Homo sapiens: one gene and its partner. The protein of the gene in region 2 purifies or fractionates together with the protein of the main gene of each other region. This does not show direct contact. Each region holds a gene or a part of one and is shown on either strand. Other genes may lie near its edges.

Evidence for each region. The genes of interacting proteins can lie anywhere in the genome.
Region 1: the proteins of CSTF3 (region 2) and SYMPK purify together in Homo sapiens (affinity purification with mass spectrometry; 2 studies listed by BioGRID and IntAct, with this or other methods). This does not show direct contact.

Annotation. Positions count from the first base shown.
Region 1 is NC_000019.10:45,856,481-45,860,228, forward strand, and holds part of SYMPK (symplekin), read right to left. Parts: intron 1-3,748. UniProt on the Homo sapiens protein: Scaffold protein that functions as a component of a multimolecular complex involved in histone mRNA 3'-end processing. Specific component of the tight junction (TJ) plaque, but might not be an exclusively junctional component. May have a house-keeping rule.
Region 2 is NC_000011.10:33,084,774-33,088,521, forward strand, and holds part of CSTF3 (cleavage stimulation factor subunit 3), read right to left. Parts: intron 2,369-3,748; coding exon 2,215-2,368; intron 1,217-2,214; coding exon 1,122-1,216; intron 1,001-1,121; coding exon 940-1,000; intron 517-939; coding exon 314-516; 3' UTR 1-313. UniProt on the Homo sapiens protein: One of the multiple factors required for polyadenylation and 3'-end cleavage of mammalian pre-mRNAs.

The DNA of each region.
Region 1 (3,748 bases), on a different chromosome or scaffold from region 2:
TTTAACTTCTCTGGCTCTCAGTTTCCTCTTCTAGGAAACAGGGATAGTAACAGGGCTTACCTCCCAAGACTATTTTGAGGATTAAATGAGTTAGTATATACAGTAAACATTGGCTAAGTATACTATTATTTTTATGTACATGGGAAAAGATCTGAAGGCTACTGCATAAACTGCTAACAACAATTATGATAATTAATAATAATTTGGCCAGCTCACGCCTGTAATCCCAGGATTTTGGGAGGCTAAGGTGGGAGGATCAATTGAGCTCAGGAGGTGGAGGATGCAGTGAGCTGTGATCCCTACCACTGCATTCCAGCCTGCGGACAGAGCAACACCCTGTCTCAGAAACAAACAGGCCAGGTGCAGTGGCTCACATCTGTAATCCCAGCACCTTGGGAGGCTGAGGTAGGCAGAACACCTGAGGTCAGGAGTTCGAGACCAGACTGGCCAACATGGAGAAACACTGTTCCCTACTAAAAACATACAAATTAGACAGGCATGGTGGCGCATACCTATAATCCCACCTACTTGGGAGGCTGAGGTGGGAGAATCACTTGAACCTGGGAGGCAGAGGCTGCAGTGAGCTGAGATCACGCCACTGCACTCCAGCCTGGACGAGAATGAGACTGTCTTAAAAACAAAACAAGGCTGGGTGCGGTGGCTCACACGTGTAATCCCAGCACTTTGGGAGGCCAAGGCGGACGGATCACGGAGGTCAGGAGATCGAGACCATCCTGGCTAACAAGGTGAAACCCCGTCTCTTCTAAAAATACAAAAAAATATGCCGGGCATGGTGGCGGGCGCCTGTATTCCCAGCTACTCGGGAGGCTGAGGCAGGAGAATGGCATGAACCCGGGAAGCGGAACTTGCAGTGAGCTGAGATCACAACACTGTACTCGAGCCTGGGCGACAGAGTGAGACTCTGTCTCAAAAAAAAAAAAAAAAAAAAAAAAACACACACTAAACAAACAAACATGCCAAAAAAACAATAATCTGAGGACGGTGAAAATGATACTTTTTTCTTTTTTTGAGATGGAGTCTTGCACTGTCGCCCAGGCTGGAGTGCAGTGGCGTGATCGTGGCTCACTGCAAGCTCCGCCTCCTGGGTTCACACCATTCTCCTGCCTCAGCCTCCCCAGTAGCTGGGACTACAGGCGCCTGCCACCACGCCCGGCTAATTTTTTGTATTTTTAGTAGAGACGGGGTTTCACCATGTTAGCCAGGATGGTCTCGATCTCCTGACCTCGTGATCCGCCCGCCTTGGCCTCCCAAAGTGCTGGGATTACAGGCGTGAGCCACCGCAACCAGCCGAAAATACTTTTTTTTTTTTTTTTTTAGATGGAATTTCACTCTTGTTTCCCAGGCTGGAGTGTAATGGCACAATCTCAGCTCACCGCAACCTCCACCCTCCCAGGTTCAAGCAATTCTCCTGCCTCATCTCCCAAGTAGCTGGGATTACAGGTATGTGCCACCACATCCAGCTAATTTTTGTATTTTTAGTAGAGACGAAGTTTTACCATGTTGGTCAGGCTGGTCTCGAACTCCTGACCTCAGGTGATCTGCCCACCTTGGCCTCCCAAATTGCTGGGATTACAGGTGTGAGCCACAGCGCCCAGCCGAAAATGACACGTTTTTTAAAAGGAACTACCCAATAGCTATTCACAGTAGTATCACATGATAGGGGTCTCCTCAATGAATGACGAGCCACAGCCTCCTCCCTAGTTTCCCTGCTGCCTGTCACCCCCTATCTTGCTCAGGGTCAGGGCCAATGTCCCCATCAAGGCCTACAAGATTTTATGGCATCTGGCCTGTTCTTCCTCTGACTGCCTCTCCCCCTGGGCTCTTTGCTCCACCCACTCTGGCCTCCTCGCTGTCCTGTGAACATGCCCAACATGCCCCTTCCTCAAAGACTTTGTGCCTCTCTTCCGTCTGCCTGGAATATTCCTCCTCCTAGATATCAGCACAACTCCTTCCCTCTTCATTTCCTTCAGGTCTCCACTCACATGTCTCTGCAGTAAGGTCTTCCCTGACGACTATGTTTCTTTTTTTTTTGAGACGGAGTTTCCCTCTTATTGCCCAGGCTGGAGTGCAATGGCGTGATCTCAGCTCACAGCAACCTCTGCCTCCCAAGTTCAAGCGATTCTCCTGCCTCAGCCTCCCTAGTAGCTGGGATTACAGGCATGTGCCACCACGCCTGGCTAATTTTGTATTTTTAGTAGAGACGGGGTTTCTCCATGTTGGTCAGGCTGATCTCGAACTCCCGACCTCAGGTGATTCGCCCGCCTTGGCCTCCCAAAGTGCTGGGATTACAGGCATGAGCCACCGCGCCCGGCCGACGACCATATTTCAAATTTTAACTTCCTCTCGATCCCCATCTGTGTTGCTTTTTCTCCATAGCATTTATCATCATCACACACTACATATTTATAAGTTCCACGAGGACAGTGATTTATTTATTTGAAATCATTTTTTGGTAGAAGCAGAGTTTCGCCATGTTGCCCAGGCTGGTCTTGAACTCCTGCACTCAAGCAATCCACCCTCCTTGGCCTCCCAAAGTGCTTGGGATCACAAGTCTCAGCCATCGCCCCCGGCCTAGAACAGGGATTTTGTTCCTTCACTTTTTATATTCCCAGCACGGAAGAGTGCTTGGCACCTAGCAGGAGCTCAATAAACATCTGCTGAATGAGTGAACACTACTGCCAAACGGCCTCCCCAATCACTGGGTTCAGTATTCCTGCCCTTTCACTCTTGAATCCTAATAGCTATACTTGTTCTACTTTTTCCCCCTTTCTCACTACTGCACTTGACAAGTCTTTAAAAAAAAAAAAAAAAAAGGGCATGGTGTGGTGGCTCACTCCTGTAATCCCAGCACTTTGGGAGGCCAAAGTGGACAGATCACTTGAGGCCAGGAGTTCAAGACCAGCCTGGCCAACATGGCAAAACCCAGTCTCTGCTAAAAATACAAAAAAATTACTTGGGCATGGAGATGGATGCCTGTAATCCCAGCTACTTGGGAGGCTGAGGCATGAGAATTACCTGAGCCTGGGAGGCAGACGTTGCAGCGAGCCGAGATTGCGCCACTGCACTCCAGCCTGGATGACAGAGCAAGACTCTGTCTCAAAAATAAAACAAAACAAAAACAAAGAAAGGAAAGAAAACAAAAATAGGACGGGTATAGTGGCTCACAATTGTAAACCCAGCATTTTGGTAGGTCTAGGTGGGAGGATGGCTTGAGGCCAGGAGTTCAGGACTAGCCTAGGCCTAAAAACTAAAAAAGAAGGCCAGGTGCAGGGGTTCATGCCTATAATCCCAACATTTTGGGAGGCTGAAGCAGGAAGAGTACTTGAGGCCAGGAGTTTGAAACCAGCCTGGGCAACACAGCGACACACCATCTCTAGACATATGCACAATTAGCTGGGCATCGATATCATGCCACTGCTCTCCAGCCTGGGAGACACGGTAAGACTCCATCTAAAAAAAAAAAAAAAAAAAAAAAAAAATTAGCCAGGCATGGTGCCATGAACCTTTAGTCCCAGCTACTCTGGAGGCTAAGGTGGGAGGATTGTTTGAGCCTGGTTGTAGTGAAGTATGATTGGGCCACCGTAGTCCAACCTGGGCAACAGAGCATGAACCTGATGAACCTGTTTCCAAAAAAAAAAAAGAAAAAATAATCAGTTAATATATATTGAACACGGCCGGGCACGGTGGCTCAAGCCTATAATGCCAGCACTTTGGGAGGCCAAGGCGG
Region 2 (3,748 bases):
CTGTTGAAAAACTCACAAATCTTCAAGCGGCACATACAAGACACCCTTGAAGAGGGAACAAAATGTGGTTCTGCCACTTTGTACTGTTCTCACATTTTTGAAAACCTAATTTTGCTTAGAGCATAGGTCTGTTCCGTATTCTAAAATTCACACAGGTTGGTTTGTTTTTTCTCAAGAACCATGTGATAGAGGCACCAATGACAATACAACTTTGTTTCCAAGAACCTTGTAACAAAGCGTTGTCTCTTTTAAACATACCACTTGAGGCAAAAGGAATCCTGGACAGGAGTTTTCTGCAGAGGCGTTTAAAACCCTACCGAATCCGCTTCTGCTGCCGTGCTCTGTAAATGTCATGAACAGGGGGGACAACGGCTCCCTTTTCTTCATCTTCATCTGAATCCTCGTTGGGCCTTTTGACGGCCTTGGTGAGTACTGCATTACTTTCCACGGGGCCGTTGCCTTCTACAGCTAGCTCTGGGGCCCCACCAGTAATGATCCTCACAGCTTCCTCAACAGCTATTAAAACAAAACAACAAAACGTAAAAACATATTCCACTATGAAAGGGTATGTATGTTCAACTGTGGATACTTTATTTCATAGCCTACTATTTTAGCAAAACATGGGATAGTACTACTGATACTAAATAATTAAAGAAAAAGACAAAAGCTGCTGTTAAAACTAATAATTTTCATAAGCCAAGCCTGATAGTGCATGTTCACATGAATAGAAAAGATAAAGTTTTATGACATTTTACTTAGTGGAATTCAATGTGAATAAGCCTTTCTCTGCCAAAGAGGGTTTGGGTAACTCCTGGGTTTCACTGCACTTCAAATTGGCTGGCTGGTTTCGAAAACTTCAGTGGCAGAGAATAATAATCTCTACTGCCTATGAGACAACAACGTGGAATGACACTCTGAAATGGAGCTTCTGTTACTTACTATTTGGTATCTTGCATCTTCGGAAAATTTCCATCAGTTCATCCACTTGTACAAAAGGACCCTATTTTTGACATGAATAAATTTTAATCCCAGTAATCTGACAAGTTAAAGTAGTAGTAACTTTATACACAATTACTATGACCCACAGAGCCAGTATCTACCATGAAAATAAGTGAACAAACCTGGAAACAGATAGGAGGAGGGAGAAGTTTCATTAAAACAACAGCTGCAGGAGGGACTGGGAACACTCCACCAGGTACAGGGTGTAAACCTGGAGCTGTGAGAAAAAGAAAAGTATGAATCAAGTGGAATGGAAGAATTTCTACACAGAGCTAAAATCAAGTGACTTGCACATAAAGATCTTCCATGTCTGCTGCTTTGTTCTGGACACTGAAAATACTTCTAGGGCTTTACCAAACCAAAGTGGGTGAGACAGCAGTCTCAATGCCGTGGCCACTGGGAGGCAGAGAAGTAGACAAGTGACTTTGTGTAAGACAACCAGGGACTGAACTAAAGTCAGTTTTTGTCAAAGAGTGTTTCTGAGTTACACAAGTCATTTGTTTAGCAATCCTGTTTCAAGTCAATTATTCAACAGTGTATTTAATCAGAAGGGCCTTGTTCAAAAAGAATCTAGAGAGGCTACTAACCCATTCCTAAGTAAAGAAACCAAATCTATCAGTGAAGAAAGTTTCCACCAGCTGTTCAGGTAATCTGCACATAGCAGCATTCCTTTTTTTTTTTTGATACAGAGTGTCGCTCTTGTTGCCCAGGCTGGAGTGCAATGGCACCATCTTGGCTCACTGCAACCTCCGCCTCCCGGGTTCAAGTGATTCTCCTGCCTCAGCCTCCCAAGTAGCTGGGATTACATGTATATGCCACCAGGCCCAGAAAATTTTTGTATTTTTAATAAAGACAAAGTTTCACCATGTTAGTCAGGCTGGTCTCAAACTCCTGACCTCAGGTGATCCACCTGCCTTGGCCTCCCAAAGTGCCAGGATTATAAGTGTAAACCACTGCACCTGGCCATAGCAGCATTTCTGAAAACCAAGTATTACTGCCAAAATGGGTTCCTGGAATCTGGATCATTGAAGTTTTGTTTTTAGGACATTCTTAGTTAATCTAGTTCAAAGATTAAAGCTAAATCACTTGTCATAGTGATCCTAAGTCTAATAATTAACCCACAATTGAGAGGCCATGTCACTTTACCCCCACGCTTTGGATTTAAATCAACAAACAAACCAACGTCTCAGTACTGGATCTAAAGTCATGGCTTACGTGCTAAATGTCGTGGCTGAAATGGAATCATCTGCTGAGTGTCTGGTTTAGGGTATTCTGGTTTTCTATCCACTTCATCTTTCAGAACAGGCACTATAGAAGGAGCTACAACTGGGTCCGGAATTATAGCTGCTAGCTTAGCACGGGAGACATCCTGAAAATGCAGAACAGAAGAATCCTAAACCTGAAAAAGGGACTACTAGAGAATAATCATGCAATAACCTTGAGGATACAGTGTGAATATCTGGGTCAAAACCACAGAAAGAAAATGGAGACGGATAAGCAAGGACTCTAATGATGGTAAAGATTGTTACTCAACAAGGAAAGCTATTTGGTTCTAAGACTCAGTGTATCATAACTTTACCCCACACAAGTTACAAGTCATTAAACTTAGTGTTGCCAGGCAGGACATTTGTAGGACAGATACAAGCTTTTTTGGGTAGTCAGACTGGGAACCAAGTAGAGGCCAGGATAATTTGGAGGAAAATTCAAGATTTTAGATCTTCTGACACCTCCCTTCCATTAGAATTGAACACCAGTTTCATTAAATGAAGAAGCTGGATTAAGTGACTTCCTGTTTTGTGAAGGCATCACACCGGTTAAGATTTTGCTAATGCAATGAAAAATTATTTCCAATGTACTATTTATTACAGGGGACAAGGAATATTTACTGAGCAGACACTATTCATCAGGCAATTTTAGCCATTCTGTTTTTAATGAGGGAAATAGTAACATCTCCATTATATAGAAGGGACTGAAGCTCACAAAGGTTTTGATATTTCCCAGGTCACACAGCTAATAAGAAGTAGAGAGAGGAGGATTGGGAGGGCAGGCCTCTCTGACCTCAAATCCATCCACAGTCTTCTTTTCAGTACACTAGCATTGCCCTGCCAGGGCTGAGACAAGATATGCCAAAGGAAGCAATACAGTCACCTATGAACAGAGGCCCTATCTCAGAGGAGCTCCTCTGCTCCAGACAACCCAGTGTTACTCTGTCTGTCTAGAAACAAAAGAACCCCTTTTTGCCGCCATCAAGGGATATAAAAGCATTCCACTTTCTCAAAATTTGTTGAAATGGAGTTGGTGACATCTGGTATTAATTATATAAGCAAATCTAAATGGTAGACACATTGGGTATCGCTTTTTAAAAATCTTTCTCACAGATACATACATACCATACCACCCACCGTTAAACACAGAAGCACATTAATCCTTCCCCAAAAAACAAAAGAGTAGAAATAGAAATACAAGATGGAAAACATCATATTCAGGAAGTAGTTCTACTCCTGAATACTTACTCTCTTTTTTTTTTTTTTTGAGACAGAGTCTCACTCTGTCACCCAGGCTGGAGTACAGTGGTGCTATCTTGGCTCACTACAACCTCCTGGGTTCAAGCAATTCTCCTGCCTCAGCCTCCTGAGTAGCTGGGATTACAGATGCCCGCCACCAAGCCCGGCCAATTTTTGTATTTTAGTAGAGACGGGGTTTCACCATGTTGGCCAGGCTGGTCTCAAACTCCTGACCTCAGGTGATC